Linked DNA regions of Homo sapiens: all the other regions are linked to region 5. The links come from fine-mapping of genetic effects on gene expression. A gene starts in region 5. Each other region holds a variant in brackets. All regions are shown on one strand. Distances are between the middles of the regions.

Region 1 (4,069 bases), 110 kb after region 5:
GGTCATCATAGTATTTGTTCAACTTAGTCATATGTTTGAAAATTTTGGATAATAAAATGCTGGAGGGAAAAAGAAATCAACTCACATCCTCAGGCCGAACTCTAAATAAATTAGGCAGTAACTATATTACATTGCTATATTAGCCTCCAGTGACCTCCTCCACTCCTGACCGTTTTAAATATTTGGCGTTACAGCTTCATTCTCTCAAAAACAGAACAGGCTATGTTGTTTCGGTATACTGCTAACACTGTGAACATCACAAGGTTCACCTTCAATTACTTTACCTAATCTGGAGTATGAGAGTATTCGTGAAGATTCTTTGGTTGTGATCAGAAACTGACTCTAACTTAAGCAAATGGGGAATTTATGGGAAAGATGTAGGGGAGCTCACAGGACTCACAGGATTGAAGGAAACGAGGCACAGAACATACAGAAACTAGACTGCTCCAGAGAGTGTAGTGGCAGGAAGTGTAGCATTGCCCCAGGGAGTGATGCGGTCATGAAAGAACGCCAATAATTAACAGACTTTCATCATTCTGCTCATAATCTAAATTTCAGACAGATAATTTCCAACTGGCCTTCCTTGCCCATTAGACTGTATACGATGGAGAAAGATCATTTCCAAATGGAAATTCAGATGCTATTACCAAAAGAAACTGGAATGGATGCTAAACGGCCTAAAATCAAAGCAAAAAATTAAACAAACAAACACTACAAGCATACTCACATTTTTCTGCACACTTAACAAGACACTAAATACCATTTACTTGCTAAATACCACTCAGTTTTTCACTTCCTTCTGCCTCTCTTGTTTTGTAATTCCAACTCTGTCTTGTGACCATCTTAATATTTCAACCAAAATTTCCTGGGTTCTATCTGCTCCCCTTCTCATCCCCAGAATCTAGTATTTCACAAGGAAGCTTAACCTCTCCATATCCACTACCAGCACTGACTTAGAATTTAATACTTCCCTAGTTCACATCCCGGATCCCACACTGGTACATCTCAACCTACATCACTTGGGGTATTTGGATTTATTTTCCAATTGCAAAGTTCTCTGGATATTAGTGAAGATGAGACCTAGGCCCATCTGGTTGTCCAACACATCACAGCAGAACCTGAGCAAGCTCAGGAACCAGCCTGACTCCCCCTAGTGCCACTCTAGAACAGGAGTTTTTAACAAGTGCTCTAGAATGACTGCTTCATAGGAGAGCTGTTACCTAGACGCAGGAGAGAAATGAACATATGTAAAGCAAGGTAAGTCATTTTAAGCAACTGGATTTGAAAGAACTAACTAGTTTATCCAGAATTTTTGAGTAGGGAACAGAGGCTTGGCTCTAGAGCTGCACATTTGGGCCATGTTTATGTGAGTCAGGAGAAAGCCTGGCTCCAAGGCTGACACACTAGCACAGTTGTTGCTGTCACCTTTTGGGGTAATTTGGAGCACACCCAGCAAGAATTGGCCCTGCGGCATGGGAGGCCAGAGGCCAGCTAGAGTTGTTCTTTCCATGAGTACCACACCCCTGGATTTTCAGGGTGTCCTGACACCCCTGGCTCCACTGTGAAAGGGCACACCCATCAGCAGATAGCAACCTACGGGGATCCCATCACCACTTGATTTTCCAAGTTCTGACTTCATTTTCTCCAGGGCATTTTCTCCTCATTTTCCTGGTTGCAGGGGACCGTAGCTGCTTTATTTGGTTATGTTTGGCCCTCAATATGGAATAATAATGGGGTTAAGAGTCTACAGCTGCTTGTTCATATTTAGAAAATGTTTCTTCTAGTTCTGGCTTCATAAATTATTAATTGTCTGAGTTTGGGAAAAATCATTCAAACATCTCTAAATTGTAGTTTCTTCATTCGTAAAAAAAAAAAAAATAACTATCGTATCTACTTCAGATTGCTATGAGAAATGAATGTCATAAATTTTGGCCATTCAACTACAGGCATCTAATGTGTTCCTGATAAAATCACAGAAGTTCTATACATAAAAATATATTTAACTTTTTAAAAATGTTAAGTCTGGTGTTTACCTTCAATCTCTTTAGGATGCCGTAAAAATTTATAAAAGATTAAATGTAATTATTATTAAAAGGATACGTAAGTCTACAGTTTTTAAATAAAGAAAAATTATAAAAATTAAAAATTACCTATAACCTCACCATTGTATGAATTTTGGAAAACTTATTAGCATCAGCAATACATGTTGTTTCGTAAACTATATTTTTGTTTCAC[A/G]ATATGTTGCAAATGTGGACATGTGAAAAACAGTTTGCGAAATGTGAAATATCTTACAAATGTTTCCAATTACTGTCACTTTTACTATCAGTTACTCTTACTATCAGCTCAGCAAAATTTATTAATTTTCTTAGGATAGTGATTAGTTGTAAGATTATATCTCCATTCTTAAAAAGCCATATGGTATTTAAAAGAAAACAAGCCAAAATATACAAAATGCTGAGAGCTAAACAGAGTTTAATGACTCTGAAAAGGACTCACAGATGTGAACTTATTAAAGTACTGTGCTCTAATGAATAGGAGTCTGGGCTTTGGAGTCATATATACTTGATTCGAATCCTAGCTCTGCTTCTCTAAGTCTCTGTTTTTCTGCTTATTAGCAAAACAAAATATAGTTCTTATCCTAAAATTTTTTTAACATTTAAAATACTTACACATAGGGAAAAATAATAAGTAGTACCTATCTTAAAATATTATTACATACAGTCAGTCACAGTAGCTCACACCTGTAATCCCAGCACTTTGGGAGGCCAAGATGAGAAGATCCTTTGAGTCTAGGAGTTCAAGACCAGCCTGGTCAACATGGCAAAACCCCATCTCTGCAAAAAATACAAAAGTTAGCTGGGTGTGGTGATGCATGCCTGTAGTTCCAGCTACTCAGGAGGCTGAAATGGGAGGTTCACTTGAGTCCAGAAGGTCAAGGCTCCAGTGAGCTGTGATCACACCACTATACTCCAGCCTGGGCAACAGAGTGAGACCTTGTCTCAAAATAAAAGAAAAAAAAATACATTATTAATATTAGATCATAAATATTTAAATAATAAAAAATAGGCCTTCAAAAATACTGAAGATGCTATGGTTTTCAAGGTTTTATATATATGATATATATTGATATATAAGTCAGTATATATGATATATATGTCAATATATGATATATGACATTGATATATGATATATGTGATATATATCTATATGTCAATATGTATTATATCATATTTTTATATAATCATATTATGCATTATATTAAATATTTACATATATTTATAATATATTTATAATTATATAAAAATCTATAAACATAAATTTTTACAAATATATAAATTTATATTTAAATATTTACATAATTTATATAATTATAAATATATATCCATGATATATATCACATATATATCATTATATATCATATGTCATATATTATATATATCATTATATATTACATCGATAATATATATGTATAATTATATTATATATTGATATAATATATGGATATATCTATATATTATGTATAATAGATATATTATATCCATACATAATGCATCAGTATATTAAACAGATATATACAAATTATCATAATTTATAAATTATAACGAATTATGATAAATTATCATGACAGTGATAATATGTAAATTTTCAGCTGTTTTATTAAAGGAAAACAAACACAAGAGGCCCTCTACTGGCAACTGTCCATCAGAATGAGCACTCTTCATCCACAAGGGATGGTGGCCAAAAGTACAATAGTATTTTAGGAAGAAACTTGATAGTATGTAGCAAGATTCCTTAAAAACTCATAGTTATTTACCAATAATTTCCATGTTAAGACTATTTTCTTATTTACTTACCTAGAGACAGGGTCTCACTCCATTACCCAGGTTAGAGTGCAGTGGCACGATCTCAGCTCACTGCAGCCTCAATCTCCTGGGCTCAAGTGACCCTCCCACCTCAGCCTCCTGAGTAGCTGGGACCACAAGTGCATGCAACCATGCCCAGCTAATTTTTGTATTCTTTGTAGAGACAGGGTTTTACCATGTTGCCCAGGCTGGTCTCAAACTCCTGG
Region 2 (4,069 bases), 41 kb after region 5:
GATTGATTATTGGGTACAAAAATACAGTTAGATAGAAGAAATAAGCCTACTGTTTGATGAAGCAGTAGAGTGACTATAGTAAAAAATAATTAATTGTGTATTTCAAAATAGCCAGTAGAAAATAATTAAAATGTTCCCAACATTAGGAAAAGAGAAATGTTTTAGGTGAAGGATATCACAATTACCCTGATTTGATTGTTTTATATTATATGAACATATCAAAATATTACATACACCCTGAAAATATGTACATTGTGTATCAATAAAATAAAATAAAATAAAATAAAATGAATTCTTTTACAGATTTTTCAGAAGGCAAGTAACTATCTTAAAGTGAATGAAATAACATGGCTAATTCTAACATTGACTAGTTATGTGACCTTGAAAAGTTATTATTCAAAATGCACTTCTATTCATTCAAAATGGATGGGATAAGAGTACCTACCCCACAGTGTTGCTGTGAGGATTATGTGAGGTGACATATATGTGACACTAACTAGCATATAACAGCTGCCCAATAAATATAGTTTCCTACTCAGCATTTTGGGAGGCCAAGGCAGGTGAATCACCTGAGTTCAGGAGTTTGAGACCAGCCTGGCCAACATGGTGAAAGCCTGTCTCTACTAAAAATACAAAAATTAGCCAAGCGTGGTGGTGGGCACCTGTAATCCCAGCTACTCGGTAGGCTGAGGTGGGAGAATTGCTTGAACCTGGGAGGTGGAGGTTACAGTGAGCTGAGATTACATCACTGCACTCCAGCCTGGGCAACAAAACGAGACACCATCTCAAAAAAATAATAATAATAAAATAAAATAAATAAAGTTTCTTTTCAAGATCTTTGGGTGGTGAAACCTTTTGTGACTCCTCTGTTTCCCACTGGGCATCCCACTGGGCTGCCACTAGTTGAATTTATTATCTGACCTCCTTAAATCTCATGACTCATTTATTCATTCTCAGACCTAGAAATGTATTTTTACTCTGCCCCTCAAGCCCATAGTTACCCTCCCAGTGTCTTCAAACTTTTGCTGTCACCACTGTGTTAACATCATTTCCACAAGTTCCCTGTGGCCACTACTCCATGCCCCTCAACATCTTCTGCTTGCCACATTTTCTAACTCAGTAACCTTTCTCATCCTCTTTTGGGGGAATTCCGGGCTTTAGCCACAGTCAATCTGCCCTACATAGCATTTCCTATTGCACATACCTATTACAACTTCTGCAGTTCAATTTCCAGAGAGGAGGTGGGGGAAATGTGGCCCTTAGGGAAACAAAAAAGAACAAAGAAAAAAGATAATGTAGGCAATTAGGGGAAGCTAACAAGTAGCTCAATCTAGTTGGGAAACCCTATATTGGGAGTTAAGTGCAGTGTTCATGGAGAACCAAGAAATCATCTTCATTCTCCACTCCAAGTTCTTCTCCAATTTCAGCAATATATGGCAGGACTTTTTGAGTTCTTACTATGTGTGAGCCACTGAGTATTTCACACAGATTATCTCATTTCCTTTTTAACTAATTCTAGAAATAGAAACATTTATTATCACATCCTTATTTTACAGATGTTGAAATTGAAGCTTAGAAAGATGCTCAAGGTCACACAGCCAGGGACTGACAATCTGGCTCTAGCACCTGTTAACTACCCTCTGCTCTACTCTCAAAGGTCAGGGTTAACTACAGCTTCCAGGCTAAAAGAAGGTAATCATCTTACCTAACCAGCTTTTCTTTTTTTCTTTTTTCTTTTTTTTTTGAGGCGGAGTCTCGCTCTGTCGCCCAGGCTGGAGTGCAGTGGCGCGATCTCGACTCACTGCAAGCTCCGCCTCCCGGATTCACGCCATTCTCCTGCCTCAGCCTCCCGAGTAGCTGGGACTACAGGCACGTGCCACCATGCCCCGCTAATTTTTTGTATTTTTAGTAGAGACGGGGTTTCACCGTGTCAGCCAGGATAGTCTGGATCTCCTGACCTCGGGATCCGCCCGCTTCGGCCTCCCAAAGTGCTGGGATTACAGGCGTGAGCCACCGCGCCCAGCCTTACCTAACCAGCTTTT[C/CT]TTTTTTTTTTTTTAATTTTTATTTTATTATTATACTTTAAGTTTTAGGGTACATGTGCACAACGTGCAGGTTAGTTACATATGTATACATGTGCCATGCTGGTGCACTGCACCCATTAACTCATCATTTAGCATTAGGTATATCTCCTAATGCTATCCCTCCCCCCTCCCCCCACCCCACAACAGGCCCCAGAGTGTGATGTTCCCCTTCCTGTGTCCATGTGTTCTCACTATTCAATTCCCACCTATGAGTGAGAATATGCGGTGTTTGGTTCTTTGTCCTTGCAACAGTTTACTGAGAATGATGATTTCCACTTTCATCCATGTCCCTACAAAGGACATGAACTCATCCTTTTTCATGGCTGCATAGTAGTCCATGGTATATATGTGCCACATTCTCTTAATCCAGTCTATCATTGTTGGACATTTGGGTTGGTTCCAAGTCTTTGCTATTGTGAATAGTGCCACAATAAATATACGTGTGCATGTGTCTTTATAGCAGCATGATTTATAGTCCTTTGGGTATATACCCAGTAATGGGATGGCTGGGTCAAATGGTATTTCTAGTTCTAGATCCCTGAGGAATCGCCACACTGACTTCCACAATGGTTGAACTAGTTTCCAGTCCCACCAACAGTGTAAAAGTGTTCCTATTTCTCCACATCCTCTCCAGCACCTGTTGTTTCCTGACTTTTTAATGATCGCCATTCTAACTGGTGTGAGATGGTATCTCATTGTGGTTTTGATTTGCATTTCTCTGATGGCCAGTGATGATGAGCATTTTTTCATGTGTCTTTTGGCTGCATAAATGTCTTCTTTTGAGAAGTATCTGTTCATATCCTTCTCCCACTTTTTGATGGGGTTGTTTTTTTCTTGTAAATTTGTTTGAGTTCATTGTAGATTCTGGATATTAGCCTTTTGTCAGATGAGTAGGTTGCGAAAATTTTCTCCCATTTTGTACGTTGCCTGTTCACTCTGATGGTAGTTTATTTTGCTGTGCAGAAGCTCTTGAGTTTAATTAGATCCCATTTGTCAATTTTGGCTTTTGTTGTCATTGCTTTTGGTGTTTTAGACATGAAGTCCTTGCCCATGCCTATGTCCTAAATGGTAATGCCTAGGTTTTCTTCTAGGGTCTTTATGGTTTTAGGTCTAACGTTTAAGTCTTTAATCCATCTTGAATTAATTTTTGTATAAGGTGTAAGGAAGGGATCCAGTTTCAGCTTTCTACATATGGCTAGCCAGTTTTCCCAGCACCACTTATTAAATAGGGAATCCTTTCCCCATTGCTTGTTTTTCTCTGGTTTGTCAAAGATCAGATAGTTGTAGATATGTGGCGTTATTTCTGAGGGTTCTGTTCTGTTCCATTGGTCTATATCTCTGTTTTGGTACCAGTACCATGCTGTTTTGGTTACTGTAGCCTTGTAGTATAGTTTGAAGTCAGGTAGCATGATGCCTCCAGCTTTATTCTTTTGGCTTAGGATTGACTTGGCGATGTGGGCTCTTTTTTGGTTCCAGATGGATTCACAGCTGAATTCTACCAGAGGTACAAGGAGGAACTGGTACCATTCCTTCTGAAACTATTCCAATCAATAGAAAAAGAGGGAATCCTCCCTAACTCATTTTATGAGGCCAGCATCATCCTGATACCAAAGCCGGGCAGAGACACAACCAAAATAGAAAATTTTAGACCAATATCCTTGATGAACATTGATGCAAAAATCCTCAAAAAAATACTGGCAAACCGAATCCAGCAGCACATCAAAAAGCTTATCCACCATGATCAAGTGGGCTTCATCCCTGGGATGCAAGGCTGGTTCAACATACACAAATCAATAAATGTAATCCAGCATATAAACAGAACCAAAGACAAAAACCACATGATTATCTCAATAGATGCAGAAAAGGCCTTTGACAAAATTCAACAACACTTCATGCTAAAAACTCTCAATAAATTAGGTATTGATGGGATGTATCTCAAAATAATAAGAGCTATCTATGATAAACCCACAGCCAATATCATACTGAAT
Region 3 (4,069 bases), 130 kb after region 5:
CCTTGTCACGTGTTTCTCATTGTGGACAGGCATACACAGCTTTGCAAAGAATAATTATTATTCCAGTGTAGAGATTTTTCCCAGACTTTCAAAAGATAGACTATAGATCTTGAGACACTAAAAAACTTGTTTATGATTTTTAATCAGCAAAAGAATGTATTCACACTTAAGACATGGAAAACAGCTCCTTCTCTGGAAAACAAGAAAAGCATTTGAAAACCAATTTCATTTTTTCTTTGAGCTATATTAAGGTCTATGGTTTTAAAAAGTATGATACAAAAAAAATCCTTTTTTTCTGTACTCAGTAGTCTAAGTATCATAGACATTTTTGCTTTTCGGAGGAATCAAAAGTGTTTCTCTGATGTCATCAGGACCATCACTCTGGCTAAATCTTTTAAAAGTTCCTATGACATCCAAACATATGAAACTCAAGGCAATATATCAAAAGAGGTAAGACTGTAGGCTTAATTCTTCTGATCTATGAGTTATATATGAGCAAAAAGATGAGTTTGAATTCTCCCTTGTACCTACTATCCTAGTGACCTTGAGCTGTTAACTGCTATGCACCTGTCTGCTCATCTGTAAAATGAGGTAAAAGTGTAATCTCTTTCATAGGATTACTGAAAGAATTAAATGAGATAATGCACGTAAACCACCTAGCATAGAGTAAATGTTCAAACATTGTTATCAATGATTAGGAGTGTGACTGTGATTGAGATCCCAGGAAGTAACATAGCTCACTATGAATGCATCTGATTTCTCTTGCTAGCACCACTTACCCGCCTAGCACATAGTCACACAGTATTTCCTTCTAAAATATTTTATAACATCCTGACAAAAGGATGAATTTTAACCTAGATCGATGTTCTTTAATGACCAGAAATGTAATGGTTCCTCTCTATTCTCTTTGATCTAACCTCATTTCTTTCCAATATTCAGAATCAACAAGAGGAGGAAAGAATGAGAACCCTTGGTCATGAACAGGAGAATGTTTTTGACGATTTGGAAACTGGGGAGTATGAGACTTCCTCTTGGGAGAGTTGAAATAGGGGTAACATAAAGTGCCATATGAAGAACATTCAGCCTAAGTGAGAAGAAACAAATCCCGATTTATGTCAATCATTGGCATATAATATTAAGGCCAGTCTAGCAGCTACTTTTTACCCTTACAACATGTCATTGTGCCTTGAGCTTTTTCCATCTCTTTAAGGCAGACTCCTTTCATGTGCTAGCTGTACTTAAAAAGCAGCAGTGAACAGAAAGCAAAATTAACCCAGTATATTACAAACCAAGAAATGATGACAAGAAGGTAACAGCTATACTGCTGGAAGACTGGAAAGGCATCTTCAGGTAAGTTCAGTGGATCCTGAACTACTCTGTAGCCTTCATCCAAATCCTGTCCAAAAAGGAAGCTTCAGTACCTTCTGTTTTCATATCAGGCTTGATAAGTGTGTTTTGTCAATTATAATCAAAGGCTGGCCTTGACATTAGAAAATGTTATTTTTCAAACCAAAAAGAACCTGCAAAGCCCGTTCTTTGTTGTACTTCCTCATCCTCCATAATTATGCCCTTTCACCTC[CG/C]TTTTTTTTCTTTTTTCTTCTTCTCCTTTTACTGCAGGATTTATAAAATCTCTGAAACTTGTTGTTTGCAGATGTAGGTCCCAAGTGCCCTGTCATTTACTTCCTGTCCAAGCACTGAGCAGATGGAATTACACAAGTTCGGCTGTATGAAACCACCCTCTAATGCCTTCGTTAAACTCCAGGATTTTAGAGTCTGTCCAGTTTCTGGCAGGGACCTTTCCAAACTTCCACCCCCAAAGCTGTAAATTACTACCTCATTAAACTCAATTGTAAATGATTAGGTGTCTGGAATGTACTTTCCTCTCCCTGCAGCCTCCTTGGAGAAATTACTACATTGCAGGCCTCCCTACTTAACTCAACACATTAGTCAAGCAATGCAGGGTTTGAGTAGCTCACTCAGGAGGAGGTTTTATTTTTGTTAGGGTATTAAAACTCTATTATCATTTAGTTCCAAAAGCGGAAGATTTGTGATCTTCCACTTCCCATTGAGCAATCAGTCTTTTAGCAAGAGAAAGCTGTAATCAACAGGACTTTTTCAAGAATTCAGTTTTCCTCCTGCCACACAGGCAGTTGGAACTACAGAACTTTTGTTTTTTCTGAACATCAGTGAGATGATTTAACATTTTTTAAAGGCTGCAATTGCTGCCGTTAATTTCCATAGGTAAAGATCATCTGGGAAATATTTAAACGTTTTTTTGAAACAAAGAGCAACAAAAGGTAACTCAAGTTTTCAATACCTGTTCACCTAATTCTGATTTTTCGATGAAGTTTAATAAAAAAAAAAAAACTTGAAGAATCTGGAAAGGTCATGGGGAAAGGGTTGGAGAGAGAGAAAGGAGAGGAGGGGCTGTCACATTAAATAAATAATCTAGCCTAAGTTCCCAGCCTAGCTGCCATCATTTTAGCAGAAAAGGTAAAACTAATATTCCCCGAGGGACAAAAGCTCAGAAGGTCAGTTCTCTTTCTTATGCAGGCTTTTACCTCTTTATTTAATTCACTGGCTTAGAGTCTTAAGATTTTCATAATGCTTATTTTTGGGCTTCTCTTGCCACTTGTTTCACTATAGATTGACTAGAGTCAATTAGTTGTGCTTCACTGTGTCTCTGGAATATAGGTAAAGATAGTGACTTGCGTGGAGAAAGAAAATGAGGGCTATGAGCAAAATGGTTTTGCTATGATCAAACAAGTAGTAGCAGTACAGTAAGTGTTGAAGTAGAGAGTTCTCACCATCTTTGAAGAAGATTTTCAGAAAGATACAAGGGAATGGAGCATCATTAATTCCTAACTCAGCCTATGAATTTGTTGGTGGGTATTGCAGATGATCATTAAAGAGATTCCTTTATATCTGGGCATGGAAGATAAGGAATGGACTAATAGCTTAGGTATCCATTTTTCTACATTCATTGTATGTGGAACAAGAAATAGTTCAGATGAACATTGCTTGCCAGGGTGCTCTTTAAATGGGATCATTGGGTATAACTATAATTGGGTTAATTGGAATAAGGTATAACTTTGTCTTGGTTCCTGGCCTTGTACCTTGGAATAGATGGGATTTTAGGAAAGAGGTAAAGAAGCTGTTTCCCCAAGGAAACAAAGGCGAATGGTATTACCCAGGTGATAAGGTGTGATACGGAGAAGGGAGAGTACAGGCTCCTCCTTTGTGCCGACAACACAGCACAGCTTTGATTTGGTGAAAACTGATGGAATTGCAGTATCTCTCAGGCAACCTGAGGGTCTGCGGATTTGGAAAATCTTTTAGCATTGTCATCAGTGTTGTCATGGTAGATACCAGGTGCACTGATGCTCAGGAGACTTCATCAATGTCAGACTTTCAGAAGGGTAGGCAGGATGGAAGAATGTGAGCTAAAGAAAAGACACCAAACAACCAAAGATGACTTGGTTATTTGAAAGATTCAAAAATACTTCATTGTAGGCAATTCATTCCTTGACTAAGTTTTAATTCATGTTAAATTTATCACTTAAAAGCCTATTAGAGAGTAGCACCAGCAGAATGGCAGACTAGAAGGTGCCAATCTTCATCTCCCCCACAAAAACAACTAATAACCATATACCAATGAAATTGTGGAGAGAGCTCGGGAGTACAGCAAAGAGGTAGCAGAAACTCAGTGAAGCACAAACACCAAAGATGGCTGTGTAGAAAACACCTTGCTTGCACTACTCCATTCTTCAGTTGGGATCAGCTCAGAGCCAGAAGGGATTTCTTCCAAGGGGAAAAGGTAAGCAGGAGGATCCCAGTGGCCCTCATCACCACGCAGACACCTGCACGCTTCAACACCCTGCAGTTTTTGCCAGTGCTGAGCCCAACTAAGGGAGCCAATGCTGTGCCCCGCCCCTGATTGCCTGGGTAGCCATAGTACCTCTCCATTTCTGGGGTCTTGCTGTTATTTCACCTTACCACCTAAAGCCTGGGACACCCAGCACCCCACTATCCCTGGGCCCAAGTTGCTGGAGAGCAACTCCATCTCTCT
Region 4 (4,069 bases), 120 kb after region 5:
TTAAGTCAAGCTACTCCAGTGACTTTAAAGCAATTTAAATAAACACCCATCAGGGGAAAGAGGAAAAGCTGTGGTTGAGAAAAATGCAGTGTTTGGAACAATGAGAAGGGGCAGATATTACAGAGAACCACCTCATCCATCCCACATGACAGGGCCAGGGATGTGACTTTCCCAAGTTTCTCAGAACCAGGCTGTGGTGAACACAGCAATGCATGACCCAGGTCACCTTTCAAGAAAGGACTTGCTGCCCAGCTATGGGGAATGTGGTCATTGGTGAGCCTCCAGCTGACACCTCCTTCAGGGTCAGCCTCAGCTGCCTAGAGTTGCTTTGCCCAAGGTCTTACCCTTCTCAGGGAAACCTCAGATTGGCCATTCAATGACCAAGGAAGAGGGGAGTATAAAGGCTCAGCCATTAGTGTACACAGTATCATTCCGGGTATCACAATAAAATAAAACATAGAAAAATGTATGAAGTTGAGAAATAAAAGTAGAGATTAACTACTACCAGGTGACAGAATTAATACATGAAGCACATTCTATAAAATCCTGTACACTAGATAGCAGTAGGCTACAAATTTGAGCTTAATAAGAGTTGTGGCCAGGCATGGTGGCTCACGTCTGCAATCCCAGCACTTTGGGAGGCTGAGGTGAGTGAATCACTTCACGTCAGGAGTTCAAGACCAGCCTCGCCAACATGATGAAACCCCATCTCTACTAAAAATACAAAAACTAGCCAGGCGTGATGGTGCAAGCCTGTAGTCCCAGCTACTCAGGAGTCAGAGGCAGGAGAATTGCTTGAACCTGGGAGGCAGAGGTTGCAGTGAGTTGAGATTGTGCCACTGCACTCTAGCCTGGGCGACAGAGCAAGACTTGATCTCACAAAAAGAAAGAAAAAAAGAATTGTGCCCTCTGGATTAGTAATGAATGAATAAATGCGTGATTGCATGAAATATGTAATGACTACAAAGATTATTGAGGAATGTAACAATATTTGAAGATATTGAAAAGACCAATCCATGTTGTAAAGAAAATCTTGCAAATATTCTTCCCAAAATAATCTACACATTTAATGCAATTCTAATAAAAATTCCAAAGGGTTTAGGAAACTGACAAAACCATTCTGAAATTCACCTGAAAGCAAAACAGACAGTAATAGCGATAATTTTTTTTTTCTTTTTGATCAGGTAATCTCTTGAGCCAGAGTAGGCTCAGAGACTCCTGCTCTAATATCTTGAACAACAAGAATAAGCAGGGAGAATTGCATTAACAGATTCTAAAATATAATGAAACAATATTAAGAACCATATGAGATATAAACAGAGAAGGCAGATGATACAATCATACTAAATGATGAGACAGAAACAGACCCAAGGACACATTAGAATTTAATACAAAACAATCATTTACTGCTTCTCATGATTCCAAAATTTTGGTAGGGCTCAGAATAGACAGTTTATTTCTACCTTACATTGTGTTGACTACAGCAGTGCAACTGTGGCTGGAAGTTTCCAGATGGCTTTTTTTTTTTTGGACAGGGTCTTGCTCTGTTACCCAGCCTGGAGTGTAGTGTTGCTATCATAGCTCACTGCAGCCTCAAACTTTTGCCTTCAAGTGGTCCTTCTGCCTCAGCCTCCCAAAGTGCTGGGATTACGGGTGTGAGCCACAGCGCCCAGCCTCCAACTTGTTTTATGATGCTTATATAACATTGATTCCAAAAACATACTCAAGTACTGTGAGAAAAATAAGCCAGATTTATTTTAAAACATAAATTTAAAAGTACCTACATCAATTATGATTAAATTGAACCAGCAACGTATAAAATAAATAATGCATTGAGTCCAATTTCAGATGGGTTCACACCAGAAAACCTAATTAGTATAATCCGACTACTTTAGCAAAAGAAAAGAAATGAATATTTCAATGGATGGGGAAAATTTATTTTTTATTATTCAAAAATAATTCACAATTTTAAAGAACTCTTAGCAAATAAAAATTAAAATGAACTTTCTTAACCTGATAAGCAGAATCTAATGAAAACTTACAACAATCACCCCAAATGGCAAGAAGTTAGATCATTCCCTTTGAAGACAGGAACGTGACAAAGATACCCACTATCAGTAATTCAATTCAACACTGTACTGACCCCAGCCAGAAGGGTAAGGAAAGAAGAAAAGATAACTGGCATGCAGGTTGTAGAGAAAGAAACAAAACAATAATTATTTTCTGATAGTTTTTTTCCATCTAGAAACTCCAAGAAACTCTTCAAATAAATGATCAGAGAAAACAATACAGTTTAGGAAGATAGTTGGATAAAAGGTCACTATATAAAGTTA[A/G]TTACATTCCCATACATTAATAATTCAATGAAATTGGTATGGATCATTCAAAAAATAACATAAAAGTTAGCTATTACGAATTACAAATAAAACACATCTTAGTCCCTAATACATTCTTATGAATTAATATTAATTTTTTTTTTTTTTTGAGACGGAGTTTTGCTCTGTCGCCCAGGCTGGAGTGCAGTGGTGTGATCTCGACTCACTGCAAGCTCTCCCTCCCGGGTTCAAGCCATCCTCCTGCCTCAGCCTCCCGAGTAGCTGGGACTACAGGTGCCCGCCACCACACCTGGCTAATTTTTCTGTATTTTTAGTAGAGACGGGGTTTCACCATGTTAGCCAGGATGGTCTCGATCTCCTGACCTCGTGATCCACCCGCCTTGGCCTCCCAAAGTGCTATTAATATTTTTAATGAAACTAGAAATTATAGGTGAATGGAAAGAGATTTTCTAAGTGTAAAAGCCATAGAAGGAGTCATAAAGCAGATGATCGACAAATCAGATTGCTTAAAATATGTTAAATGATACTAAAAAATCATTAACACTTAAGTGACAAACTAGAAAAATAGCCATAAATAAGACAAAAGGTTAATACCTTTAATATACAAAGCACAGTTATATGGTCATCCCTGGTATATGCGGGGGGGATTGGTTCCAGGACTGCCCCACACCCAAGCCCATGCATACTCAAGTCCCACAGTCAGCCTGTGGAACCTGCATGTATAAAAAGTCAGCACTCCATACTCAGGTTTTGCATCTGTGAATGCTATATTTTTGATCTGTACATTTGTTGAAAAAAATTTGCATATAAGTAGACCCTTGAAGTTTAAATCTGTGTTGTTCAAAGGTCAACTGTAAATCTTAAAATCCACTGGAAAACACTAATGCTCCAATAGAAATGTTAGCAAAGAAATATGAGCAAGTAAATTCAGGCAAGAAAATATTACTAATAAACATGTAAATAAAATTTAGCCTCACCATAAAACAATTGCTTATTAAAATAGCAGTGATATGTTACTTTTCAAAATAGAAAATGACAACCAAGAAAAGGTGATTTGTGTGTTATGAGATGGGTCCTTTTATACACTGCTGTTAGAAGTTGAAGTTGCATAACCACTCTCCAGACAATATTTAGCACAATTTAACAGTATATATTACTTGACCCAGTAATTCTATATCTATTTATATATCCTGAAGAAATAAGTGTGTGTGTGCGTGTGTGCGTATGTGTGTATGTTTGTACAAAGTGCTCCATGACACTAAACTATAGAAACACTAGATGTGCAACAAATGTGAAATTATAACTTACCAATAATGATTTCAAATTTTAACATGTTTGGGAATTCTTCTTCAGGGAGAATTTTGCGCAGAAGCCCAGTATAAAAATTAGTCAAATGTGGACTCTGAAAAGTCCAAGGGGATCCTGGAGCCAGTTGACTCAATTACTGCACTCCCAGTTCCTGCTTCCCCAAAGCCTTTGGTAGCCCCCAAGACTCTCATCTCTATGAATCCTCAAGACAACATGGGAAACTGAAAAAAACACAGCTATATAATATTATAAAACTATTGAAATCATATCCTGAAAATTTGTAATCTTGAGAGAAAAAGTTCAAGATATCACATAAAAATTAATATACAAAATTACATTCTGTATGATTCCAACTAGATAAATATATGTATGTAAATATCCAGTGACTCTTTTTGTTTGGGTCTTTATAGTCATCTGTATTTTTCTAC
Region 5 (4,069 bases):
TCCTCCAAGCATCCTCTGTTGCTTGTTTTCTTCCATCTTCCTGGCCCTCTGGACCTCTCACTTCCCCCTCCTACCTTTTCCTACTGCTCTAACACAATAAGATAACCTCCCACCGGTTTCTCGCTATTTGGGAAGCTGGAAGGAACAGCAACGATCACCAACCCCTTCCATTTTCCGGATGGGGAGACGGAGACCAGGATCTGAGCTGACCCGACTGGCTGAGGTCGCGCCGCTAGGGGACGTGGTGTACCTTGCGGGCTCGGATGATGACAACCCAGCCTTCCCTCCTCGCTCCTCGCCCGTGCCTTCCTGCCTCAAGCTACCTCCTTCTCTTGCCACTTGGTGTTTTTATCCTCAAATCAGACAAGTATCAAGAAAAAAATGCAACCTTAATATACTTACAATGCTGATTATTATTCATAATTTTGCATTTGGGGCAATTATACTCGCTCCTACTGGGATATGGAAATCAAGGGCAGAAAGAACTAGGTGACATTCTACCTCCCTGTGTATTTTAATGATGTTTAGTTTGGTTCAAATAACCATACCTCTAAAATACACCCTTTTTCCTTGGGACCCACTCTTCTATCCGGCAAGGGAATAACTTCTTAAAAAACTTCGCATTTTCCAAGTGTACAGTCTCCCCTTAACCAGAACTGCAGACTCTGAATCACAGACCTCTGGCTTACCAATTATGCTTAGCTGAGCAAACACACTTATGCAAATACGTGAAAAACAAACTGTTAGAGCCTGAAGGAATAGAGGATTTCGCTGTGATCATCAATATGTGATCATCACATTTTCAATATTTATGTTTACCAATATCTATCTAACCCCATAGGAAACGACGCGTCCATAGTGAAACAAGCCAGCACCCACATTTATGAAAAAATCCACGGATTTCAACAAAAATGAAGAGAGGAGAGCAGAAGCGGAGAGCCACAACCTCAGGCCCCAGACAGCAGGCAGCAGCAAGTCCTGAATGCCTTCACTCTTAACATTGCAAAGACCAAATGGCAGCAAAGAAAAACAAGAATAAACTTTAAATCCATTCACCACAAAGGAGTCCTACGCAAGTCAAAGGAGCCGTCGATTTCAAAACCATCAACTTTCAAAGCCAGGTCCCTCCCTTGCCTTACAACCTCCTGTTACTTGTTAAGCACGTTTGTTAGGCGGCTGGACAGAAACTTAGTTAAAAGTCCTCAGCCCGGTGGTGGGGGACAACCGAGTCGTCAGTGGGAAGCGAGAGGTGCGGAGCCCCAGGGGCGCAGGGACCCCTCGGAGGTGCAAGTCCAGCGGGACGAGGTTTTGGGAGAATTTCGAGGGCCCCTCGCAAGCCCTCCCGCGCACCCACCCCGACCCAGGTAACCGGAGGCCACCTACGTGTCACTGGGCGGGCCCCGGGGCGCACTGACCTGGCGCGGGACAGGAGGGCCGGCGGCCCGGGCGGCTGCGGCAACTTCCCTCCAGGGGCTCGGTCCGCCGCTGGGTGCGGGAGGCCAGGGGAGCCTCGCCTCCTGCAGGCCGGCTCGCAAGAACGCACGGCCACCCACCCGCGCCGCGGCCCACAGCGCGCACCCACACTCTCACTGGCACTCGCACGCGCGCCCCCAACCACAAAGCCCGTCCGCGGCGGGACAGTGTGAGCCCAGCGCGCCGTGTGGCGGGCCGAGCAGTCGCCGCGGCCTCTGGCTTCGCGCCCAGGGGGCGCCGTCCCCACACGCCGCGCCGGCCCCCTTACCTGCGCTCGCTGCCGCCGCGCGTCCCTCTCCTGCCGCCCCCGGGCTGGCTTCAGGCCGCGCGCCCAGTCCCGGCGGCCCCCGCCCCACCGCCAGCCGAGCCCGGCCCTCCGCCCGCCCCTCGGCAGTCGCCCAGAGCGGGGCCGCCCCCTGCGCCCACCCCGCCGGGGTCCCGTGCTCGGCCGGGCGGCGGGGAGGGCTCCGCGGCTCCGGGCCCTGGCCGCCCCAGATCCGGCCCGCGCTCCGCAGCGGGGCTGGAGACGGAGTCGCCACTCAGGGAGCGTCAGCCGCCAGTCGGCCCCTACTGCCCGGCTTTGGCGCGCTGGCAGGAGGAGGGGGCGCAGAGGGAGGGCCAGAGGAGCAGCGCCGACGCCAGCCTCCTCTCTTCCTCCGCCTTCCTTCTTTTCTGCTTGTTCCACGTAGCACAAGTCAGCAACACCCGAACCCCCAGAGTCCGCCCTCCCCGCTCCCAAGCTGGACCCCTTACCTGGTGTGGCGCCCCCAGCGCCCCTGACCTCTGCGCCCCCTCCTCCATTCATTGGCTCGACAGCCCACGGTGGTGGCAGGGCCGGGGCTGGGGGGTGGCCTTAGCCTCCCATTCATTATCTCAGCAGCCTCCCCCGCCCCGCCCCCGAGTCGACACACCCGCAGCGGGAGACCCGTGGCCGCCAGCTCGGGTCCCACCCCCGCCCCTCCTGCGCTTACCCCAGCGCCGGACAGCTGGCAGGACTCCGGTGGACGCCCCGGCACGGGGCATTTTCACGTTGTCGCTCTCCTCTTCCCACTCGAAAAGCTCTGGAAAACATCGCGGGGCCCGCAAAACCCCGGAAATGTGGCCTCTCTTTCGTGGCTCACTTTCTAAACTTTCCAGAAGGCGCAAAGTTTCTCCCAGCGCCGCCCTGCACTGGAGGCTGCGAAGAACGCAGAAGCGGCTTTGCTGCTAGGAAGGTGCATACGTTTCTAGTTCTGATTTTTCACTTCACTGGATCTGTAAACGAAAGCAAGTGTGTCTGCTCCCCTAGTTCTCCATATCCACGATTATAAATTTCTCTTCCGCTTTCCCAGTGTAGCTTTGCAAGTGTAAACTATCAATTTTAGTGAGAGTAATTAAGGGCGGGGACTGCACACCTGGAGGTGTGGGTGGGAGCGGCGCGGGACTAAGGCCTAGGGAACATTCTCAGGAGAGTGGCAGCCACAGGGATTCGCCCAGGTCTTATAACACACCCACTCGATGGGGTCTCCCTAGCCACGCCACCTCACAACACCCATCTCCCACTTCTGGCTTCCCAGGATTTCCGGAGTGATCACAATTATCGGCCTCTCGCTCCACAGCTAAGGCCACCGCATATCAAAAATAGCAGCGTGTGAGTAAAAGTTTCATGAGCCCTCGCCTTGAAATGGCACAGAGGACACAGCACACCAGCAGTAAGGCATGGGGACTCGGCAGGACTGATCTGATTGAGAGAAACGCAGGACAGCGAGGCGGGGCTATGTTGGTGGTGGCCACCAGGTAACCGTGGGCTTTGCAGAAGAGAAAGGTCACTGCAAACCGTAGCTGGACGGAAACTTTTCAAGCCTCAAGTGAGTTATGCTGTGACGGGACCATGACCATCTCCCACCGGTGACTGCTTAGAACCTTGACCAAGCTCGTGTGGTTTTCACAGGATGCTCAGGGCTGAGTCCTGGCTGTAAATAATTTACTATCTAAAGCTGTTTCCTTTTAAAAACAATGGTTCTAATCTTTTTTTTAAAAAAAATCATTCAAATCTTTTTTAAAAATCCACTTTAAATAACTTTGCTTTCTATACCTTTCCTACGAATATATGATTTATTTTATAACCTACTATGTGAAAAAATTGAAATTTTAGTACATGCACAGTGCTAATATGTTCATGCACAATGCTACTTATGTTTGTGTACGGCATGCAGAAATGTGTATAGATATGTATACCCATGAATACAAACCACTCCCTTATCTCACAAATAATCATAGGGGTTGATACCAAACTATAAGAAATATTATATTGGGATGAATAGGCAAATGTTCACTATAAAATCTCAGTATCATAAAAAGTATATATTGGTAAGAAAAAAATATACTCGAAAGAGGTTTCCATATATTTTTAACCATAGCTCTACTCAAGTCAAAAAATCACTTATTAGCTAATTTTCCCGTCTCTTTCTTCCTATACACTGTACTTACTATCAGATTTCTTAACACCAATACTTCTATATCTAATATAAAGACATTTTAAAATTAATTATTTCCATGTTTAGCCTTTCCCCATAAATCAAAGGTAAAGTAAAAGGAGTTTCTTACCTACCACTCA
Region 6 (4,069 bases), 36 kb after region 5:
TTTCTTTGCCTCACAACTTCAGGAGAGCCTGCTATGCACATATTAAGGGGAGAAAGCAAGGTTGTCATGGAAGAGAGAGAAGAGATCACTCATAGGAAAAGTGATGCAGTCAATTTTGGAACAAGAAGTAATCTTGAGAATATAAGTGAAACCATGGGCTAAAATCTGTATTTCCCAAGTCCTTGGGATATGGGCCATGAGTTAAGATTCTTAGATTTTATGTAAGTTTTCAAGGACAAGGGGACGGGGTAATTCCTTTTTTTATTTTAAGTTCCAGGATACGTGCACAGGATATGCAGGTTTGTTACATAGGTAAACGTGTGCCATGGTGGTTTGCTGCACAGATCAACACAGCACCAAGGTGTTAAGCCCCACATGCATTAGCTATTTATCCTGATGCTCTCCCTACCTCCACCCCCACCAGCAGGCCTCAGCGTGTGTTGTTCCTCTCCTTGTGTCCATGTGTTCTCATTGTTCAGCTCCCACTTATGAATAAGAACATGTGGTGTTTGGTTTTCTGTTCCTGCATTAGTTTGCTGAGGATATGGCTTCCAGCTCCATCCATGTCCCTACAAAGGACATGATCTCATTCCTTTTCATAGCTGCTTAGTATTCCATGGTATATATGTACTACATTTTCTTTATCTAGTCTGTTATTGATGGGCATTAGGCTGATTCCATGTCTTTGCTATTGTGAATAGTGCTGCAATAAACATATGCGTGCATGTGTCCTTATAATAGAATGATTTATATTCCTTTGGGTATATAACCAGTAATGGGATTGCTGGGTCAAATGGTATTTCTGGTTCTAGATCCTTGAGGAATCACCCCACTGTCTTCCACAATGGTTGAACTAATTTACATTCCCACCAACAGTGTAAAAGTGTTCCTATTTCTCCACAGCCTCGCCAGCATCTGTTGTTTCTTGACTTTTTAATAACCACCATTCTGACTAGCATGAGATGGTATCTCATTGTGGTTTTGATATGCATCTCTCTAATTATCAGTGATGTTGAACTTTTTTTCATATGTTTAAGTTCCGACATGGGTAATTTCTGCTGTTATTTAGGTCATATTTATTTCAAAGCATTCTGGGTATGAACCAACAACATCTTTAGGGTAGTATAAAAGACAGAAGGTACTACTGCAGCATTGCTAAAATGTTTCTCTTTCTTTAAAAAATCCTCTTGTTCTTCTCTCTAGTCTAAGTCAAGGGTTGACAAGCCATGGCTGGTAGGCTAATTCTGGCCTGTGGATTGTTTTTGTAAACAGTTTTACCAAAACACAGCCACTCTCACTTATTTATATATTGTCTGTGGCCGTTTTTGCACTACAATGGCAGAGTTGAGTAGTTGCAACATAGACTATAAGGCCTGCAAAGCCTAAAATATTTACTGTCTGGTCTTTACAAAAAGTTTGCTAACCTCTGCTCTAGATCAATTATTCACAAACCTGATTGTGCATTAAAATCCCTTGAGAAGCTTTGGAATAATACCAGCTCCTAGATCCCAACCACAGAGATACTGATTTAATTTGTTCTAGGGTAGTATTTAGACATCAGCATTTTCTATAACTCTCCAAGTGATTCCAATATGTAGGCAGGGAGAATCATTATTCTAAATATTTTTTAGCTCACTAGTAAAGGAAAGTTGAAGGATCATCTTCTAATTGCATATGTTCTAGATTTTAACTAACCCACAAAATGTATATTCAGTGACTTTATTTGATGAATATAAAAATCTGGAAAGGGACTTTTTGACTAATAATTCTTTTCTCAATGGCCACAAACCAATAAAATGCTCCATTTTCATTTAAAACACACATGCACCGTCAGTATAGGTGGCAAGAATTTCCTCTTCTGCTGGGAAACATTCTCAGGTTCAACCTGCTACCAAGACTCAGATATAAAGCAGTTTCCAAATATAGGTTGAGGGTTCAAATTGGGCAGCCAAAAAATTACAAACATCTGCTATGATATTGTAAAACAAATTATTACAAAAGGAAAAGAAAGAAAAAAACAAGTTCAGAGTTACTCTTCTACCTAATAAAAAAGAAGCATTTCTAGAATTCAGATTCTTTTTGAGTAAAGTTCAAAAGAGTGTAACATTATAATATGAATTCATTTAATATTTTCTAATTTCAATATCTAACAACTAGTTCATGTAACCTACATTTTCTAGAAATTGTTAACATGTAAAAATCACATCTCCTGATATGATCAACTTAAAACTGTCTAGATTATTTTCTTGTTTGATGGCAGAGAGTCTCTTCAATAGAAACTTCACTTCTATAACAAAAGAATCTGTATTATGTCATTCTTGAATTGCCATAAAGAAATACCTGAGACTGGGTAATTTATAAGAAGTTTAATTGACTCATGGTTCTGCGGGCTGTGTAGGAAGCATAGTGCCAATTTTAGCTTTTGGGGAGGCCTCAGGAAACTTCTAATCATAGCAGAAGGTGAAGAGGGAACAGGCATCTCACATGGCGGCAGCAGAAGCAAAAGAGAGAG[T/G]GAGAGGAAGTTGCCACACACTTTACAACAACTAGATCCCACAAGAACTCACTATTGCAAGAGCAGCACCAAGAGGATGGTGCTAAATCATTTATGAGAAATCCACCCTCATGCTCCAATCACCTCCCACCCAGCCCCTATCTCCAACACTGGGGATTGCATTTCAACGTGAGATTCAGAGGAAACACATATTTAAAGCCTATCAGCTTCAGGATAAAATAGTCAGACTTAAAGATACTTCCAAAAGTCTAGGTTATTCTGACTGAATTAGCACCATGAGTTTCCAAGTATGATCTCTGAGAGACTTTGATCGTATCATTGCTTTTGGTCTTTCCTAGTCCTATACCCCACTCCCAGTGAGTGGCCTGTGGATAACTATGAAAGCACACATACACACACTTCCTAAGAATAATAAATAAATTTAAGAAACAGTACAGTCTAAATCATATTTAGAAAAGCAACATTTTCTTAAAGGTTACAAAATCTGCAAAGATCCAACTCTATCCTCAATGATGTCAAAAGGAATAGCAGAGTACTGGCCAGGCATGGTGTCTCACGCCTGTAATCCAAGCACTTTGGGAGGCCGAGGCAGGTGGATCACTTGAGGCCAGGAGTTCCAGACCATTCTGGCCAACATGACAAAACCCTGTCTCTACTAAAAATAACAAAAATTACCTGGGCATGGTTGCACACACCTGTAATCCCAGCTACTTGGGAGACTGAGGCACGAGAATCACTTGAACCCAGGAGGTGGAGGTTGCAATGAGCCAAGATAGAAACACTGCACTCCAGCCTGGGCAACAGAACGAGACTCTGTCTTAAAAAAAAAAAAAAAAAAAAAGGAATAGCAGAGTATTTTAGTTCCTTGAAACTACATGGTCTCTCTCCTCTCCAATCCAGAATAGGGTATTTGTGGTGGTCTTCCCATAACAAAAAAATGTTTGCCTAATTCCCACCATACACACACACACAAAACCAAAGAACTGCTGGAAGTTTTGAACTGACAATGTTTTAGTCAGGAATCAAGCCCTGGAACTATGGGATTCCCCTTCCCTCAGCAGCCTTTCAGCAAGAAATAACTTTTAGCCGTACTCTTGGCCTGGAAAGGAGAGCGAAAGCCTGATATGAAGACAGCAGATGATTTTTTTTCTCCTTACGTAGCAAATCTCACAGGTTGTCACTTCTTTCCCCCCTGTTAAGTGTATTCTTATACCAAGACATTTATTTCCCCACAGGTCTATATCCCTATTTCCTCCCACGGCCATAGAATGTGTAAGAAAAGTAACTTTCTCAAATTTGACCTGTGCTGCTATGATATTCTTGTTTTTGTACTTCCACCATTTTACCTAGCAGTTATTAGAATTTGTTAGTGGGGAAGACAGTAAAAGTATGCTTCTGGTAGGATGGAAAGGAAATCCTACAACTCTCTCTGGACTGTCCATGAACTGAAAATTCTCCAAAAGATGTCTACTTTTGGTTATTTTTACTTATTTTTAAGGATTCCATCTCTGTTGCCCTAAGGGAATAACATTTATATTGACCTTTTGAAAGTTGTGA
Region 7 (4,069 bases), 250 kb after region 5:
AGCTCTAACCTGGTTTTGCTTCTACCTGCCTATATGGCCTTGAGTGAGTTACAACACTTCCTGGGTTGTCAATTTTGTCGTTGTTAAAGTAAAGGGTAGGACTAGATAACTCTAAGACCCCCGTCCAGTGATCACATTCTTATTCTAAATCTCATAGCAGTATTAAAGTGTTTCCAGCTCTTAAAGCACTTTCACCACATGCATCATTGAATTTGGCCCTTATACAGCCCTATCGGGTTGGTAAGGTGGGAATTACTAGCCTCATTGTAGAATGAGGAAGATGGGGCTCAGCATTAAATAAGCTTACTGTACCACACCTCTTCTCGGTAGCAGGTCTTCTGAGTCCTCCATGCCTTTTCCACTTCACTCTTCCATAACAGACAGGTAAGATGAATGGAAGCTCACAATGGGCAGGCTTGATGGACGAGGACAGCCAGGGCTGTGGCTAACGACTGAGTTTTGTTGGCTGTCTGCCTTCAGCTGGCCTTTTTCTTGATGAATGTCTGAATGAGGTGCACTGGTAGAATTCTGAGGAGGCACAAGGAAGGGGATGAGGAGCTTCAGGCAAATGGTGGGAAAGAGAAAGTGAAAAGGGAAGAAATAGAGCAGCTGCTATGTGGAGTGAAACTAACTTTACGGAAGAAAGATGCTTACAGAGGACTTTTAGGGAGTTTTGTTCTAACGTATGCACTGAAACCCTTCCCCCATCTTCACAAGAAAACAATAGTAAGGATCATCATTTTTTAAATGTTTTTGAGTTAGACTTTTGTATTTTGCATTGATTTTTAGATGTATGGATTTCTCCGATGAGTTCCAACATTTGGGTTATAATAAAAAGAAAAACACATTTACACTATTACCATTACCAACGAGCCAAAATTAGGCAAAGCAAAAAGTACATACTCCCCCTGCTCCCTCTCTTAACCCCCGCCCCGCCAAACACACACTTACTGAAAGGATTTGTGAGTCATTATTGTGACCTAACAAATGTAATGCTTTTCTCATATTTTTACTGTAGAAACAGCAAATTACAGACCCATTGACTGGCCAGTATACCTGGGAGACACTGTTCGGTATAGATTGTGATAGATCAAATAGGAAGATATAAAAATGCCCTTCCATCTGACCCCAACTGAGTGCTGAACCTGCAGGTGCAGGTGCTGAAACTGGTCCCCATTATCTGAATGTTAAGGATTCATCTGGAATGTGAGAAAGCTCCAATGTCCTAAAAACAAATCTGCAGCATAAAACTAAGGAGAGGATTTGAATTTTCTGACCTAAATAAGTCTCCTTCAATCCCAAAATGTCTCCCAAAAGACAATATTTCCCAATCTGAGAAATTTGAGATTGTGGAGGGCTGCAAGTTGTCTGCAAATCAATATGGTATACACATTCTTTTCAACTAATAGGTACCTAAAATACAACACCTTTCCTACTGAGGTGGGAATAAAAAAATGACATTCCAAACTTGAAAAGCTTGTAAATTTACTGGCATATGAAGAAACACAGTTAAGTCTCGCTTAGTGTCATGTCAAAGTAAAGAAACTTTTTTGTACTTCATAGTTTTAATCTGTTTTCCAAGTCCACTCATAAAATTTGCCATGTGCAAGGAACAACATAGTATTCAGCTAATTTGTTTGGCGGATGAATAAACTTTACTATTTCACCTTGGGAAATCATTTTTTTAAAAAAGCACATTCAAAGGAATATGCTTTTAACTTCTGTAATACAATGGAAGCAAAGCAGAATATCACAAACTTCTTACTCAATATGGTAGAATTGTTACGTACAGAACATACAAATTCCGTACAATATAGTTACAGTGAAACTCAGAAGGTCTGTTTCTTTGGATCCACACCGAAGGAGACGGAAACTTAAACTTTCTCAGTTCCTATTGCTTTTTTTTTTTTTTTTTTTTTTTTTAGAGACAGGGCATGGCTCTGTCGCCCAGGCTGGAGTGCAGTGGCTTGATCATAGCTCACTACAGCCTCAGACTCCAGGGCTCAAGCAGTCCTCTCCTCTCAGCCTCCCAAGTAGCGAAGACTACAGACATGCGCCACCATACCAAGCTAATATTTTTATTTTTATGTAGAGATAGGATCTACCTAGCTGATAGGATCAGCTGGTGGCGGCGGGCGTCTGTAGTCCCAGCTACTCGGGAAGCTGAAGCAGGAGAATGGCGTGAACCCGGGAGGCAGAGCTTGCAACGAGCCGAGATCCCGCCACCACACTCCAGCCTGGGAGACAGAGCGAGACTCCATCTCAAAAAAGAG[GA/G]AAAAAAAAAAAAAGAGAGAGAGAAGAGATAAATAAACTGAAGCTCTGAAGGTTAAGTAAAATGTGTAAGGTCATTGAACTATTACATAATTGAGTGTTATTTACACGTGAGTTTCTCTGGTGATTAGTCTCCCGTGCTTTTTCACTAGACTACAATGCCACCTTTTACTCGATCACAATGACTGGTTAGCAAGATGAGCTATATGTTCAACAAGGTACAAATATGTGCACAATTTATGTCTTAGGTTTACCTCATTTTCCTTTGCTCTGATTTAGTAGGTCTGTGGTGAGGCCCACAAATCTGTTTTTAACACTTTCCCCAGGTGATTCTTAGGTGCAGCCACAGTTTAAGCACCTTGTTCTAGGTGGTGCCGTATCAAGGACAGTGATACTGTTTCGTCTATGCCAATGTGGCTTGCTGAAGGGTGTAAAACCAGTCCTGCTGAGCAGATCCCTCTGAACAGCTGAGCCACCTTTCAAGACAGTAGCAGGATTCTCACCTGAGATAGAGGATTTCTCCACATGGGGCAGCCTCACTTTTCTCCTAATGATACAGCCTGAGGAACAGAGGGTCTGACCTCTTGTCTGGCCTTCCTAGCCTTCCTAGCGCACATTCAGTAGAGAAATCAACTCTCTCAAAGATGGATCTCCAGGCCTTTTGATGATCTTTCTCCCTCTGCCTCAAATGCTTCAGGCTGGAAGCACTGGAATGCATTGGAAGCATTGGAATGCATTCACACAGGGGCCAGCGTCCTTCTGGCAAAGGTTCTGCTAAGCTTCAAGGCAACCTTGAGTCACTCCTTTGAGGTGGCTCAATCATTTCCTGCCACTTAGCCATGACATATCTCAAAGTTCATCAACTATCTACAGATAAAGTGTCCATATAGATATATAGATATATACACACATATATTTATATATATATACACACATACATATGTATACATATATATACACACACATATTCTAAGATCATTGTGTGAGACTATTCCTTTTAAAAAAAAATTTAATCAATTCTTTGGCCAGCCACTGTGGCTCACTCCTGTAATCCCAGCACTTTGGGAGGCCAGGGTGGGAAGATTTCTTGAGGCCAGGAGTTTGAGACCAACCTGGGAAACATGGTGAGACCTCTGTCTCTACAGAAATTTTAAAAGTTAGCTGGGTATAGAAGCACATGCCTGTAATCCCAGCTACTCAGGAGGCTGAGGTAGGAAGATCTCTTGAGCCCGGGTGTTCAAGGTTACAGTGAGCTATGATCACACCACTGCACTCCATCCTGGGCAACAGACTGAGACCCTGTCTCAAAAAAAAAAAAAAAAAAAAAAATTAAATTAATTCTTTGCATAGAAAAGGAAGGCTTTTAAGCAAAAGAGTGCTTTTGTAAGATAACATGTGATTACCCGTAAGATAACAGATGAAGTAATGAGGAAGGAGAACACAGAGGAGAGGGAAGAGAAGCAGTGTGTGCTTTTTACTCCCAAACATAAACTGATCCCAGCAGAAGCCAATGATAAGAGCCAAACAGAAAATTATCATGCTCCCAGAACTACACCCCCATCTCCACCTTCTACCGTGTGTCCAAACCCTACACTAATGTTCATTCTAGTTCCTTACTCAAATTTTATCTTATATTTTTGATCCACTCAATTCCTATCACATAAACACACTTATGAAAATGTGTGTGAGGTGGGGCATGGTGGCTCACACCTGTAATCCCAGCACTTTGGGAGGCCAAGGCAGGTGAATCACCTGAGGTCAGGAGTTCAAGGCCAGTCTGGACAACATGGTGAAACCC

The links.
Region 1: its variant is fine-mapped to the expression of LPAR1 in blood mononuclear cells (TOPMed, PIP above 0.99). The same link has a PIP of 0.9 or more in T cells, monocytes and whole blood.
Region 2: its variant is fine-mapped to the expression of LPAR1 in whole blood (INTERVAL, PIP above 0.99).
Region 3: its variant is fine-mapped to the expression of LPAR1 in whole blood (INTERVAL, PIP above 0.99).
Region 4: its variant is fine-mapped to the expression of LPAR1 in whole blood (INTERVAL, PIP above 0.99).
Region 6: its variant is fine-mapped to the expression of LPAR1 in whole blood (TOPMed, PIP above 0.99).
Region 7: its variant is fine-mapped to the expression of LPAR1 in monocytes after interferon gamma (Fairfax 2014, PIP 0.95).

Annotation. Positions count from the first base shown.
Region 1 is chr9:111,148,038-111,152,106 of GRCh38, forward strand. No RefSeq gene overlaps it. Among named protein-coding and RNA genes, the nearest start is that of LPAR1, 110 kb to the left of the region's middle. The variant A/G (reference allele first, on the strand shown) is at 2,236.
Region 2 is chr9:111,077,421-111,081,489 of GRCh38, forward strand. No RefSeq gene overlaps it. Among named protein-coding and RNA genes, the nearest start is that of LPAR1, 41 kb to the left of the region's middle. RefSeq lists an enhancer at 1,006-1,055. The variant C/CT (reference allele first, on the strand shown) is at 2,043.
Region 3 is chr9:111,162,237-111,166,305 of GRCh38, forward strand. No RefSeq gene overlaps it. Among named protein-coding and RNA genes, the nearest start is that of MIR7702, 110 kb to the right of the region's middle. RefSeq lists an enhancer at 1-3,529. The variant CG/C (reference allele first, on the strand shown) is at 1,580.
Region 4 is chr9:111,154,243-111,158,311 of GRCh38, forward strand. No RefSeq gene overlaps it. Among named protein-coding and RNA genes, the nearest start is that of MIR7702, 110 kb to the right of the region's middle. The variant A/G (reference allele first, on the strand shown) is at 2,334.
Region 5 is chr9:111,036,426-111,040,494 of GRCh38, forward strand. It overlaps LPAR1 (lysophosphatidic acid receptor 1), which reads right to left and starts at 2,045. Exons shown (of 6, transcript NM_001351411.2): 1 at 1,742-2,045. It overlaps LOC124902248 (a long non-coding RNA gene), which reads left to right and starts at 503. Exons shown (of 2, transcript XR_007061732.1): 1 at 503-1,364; 2 at 3,030-4,069. RefSeq lists a silencer at 1,475-1,814.
Region 6 is chr9:111,072,028-111,076,096 of GRCh38, forward strand. No RefSeq gene overlaps it. Among named protein-coding and RNA genes, the nearest start is that of LPAR1, 36 kb to the left of the region's middle. The variant T/G (reference allele first, on the strand shown) is at 2,513.
Region 7 is chr9:111,284,303-111,288,371 of GRCh38, forward strand. LOC105376219 (a long non-coding RNA gene) reads right to left here and starts at 573. Exons shown (of 2, transcript NR_188622.1): 1 at 318-573. The variant GA/G (reference allele first, on the strand shown) is at 2,274.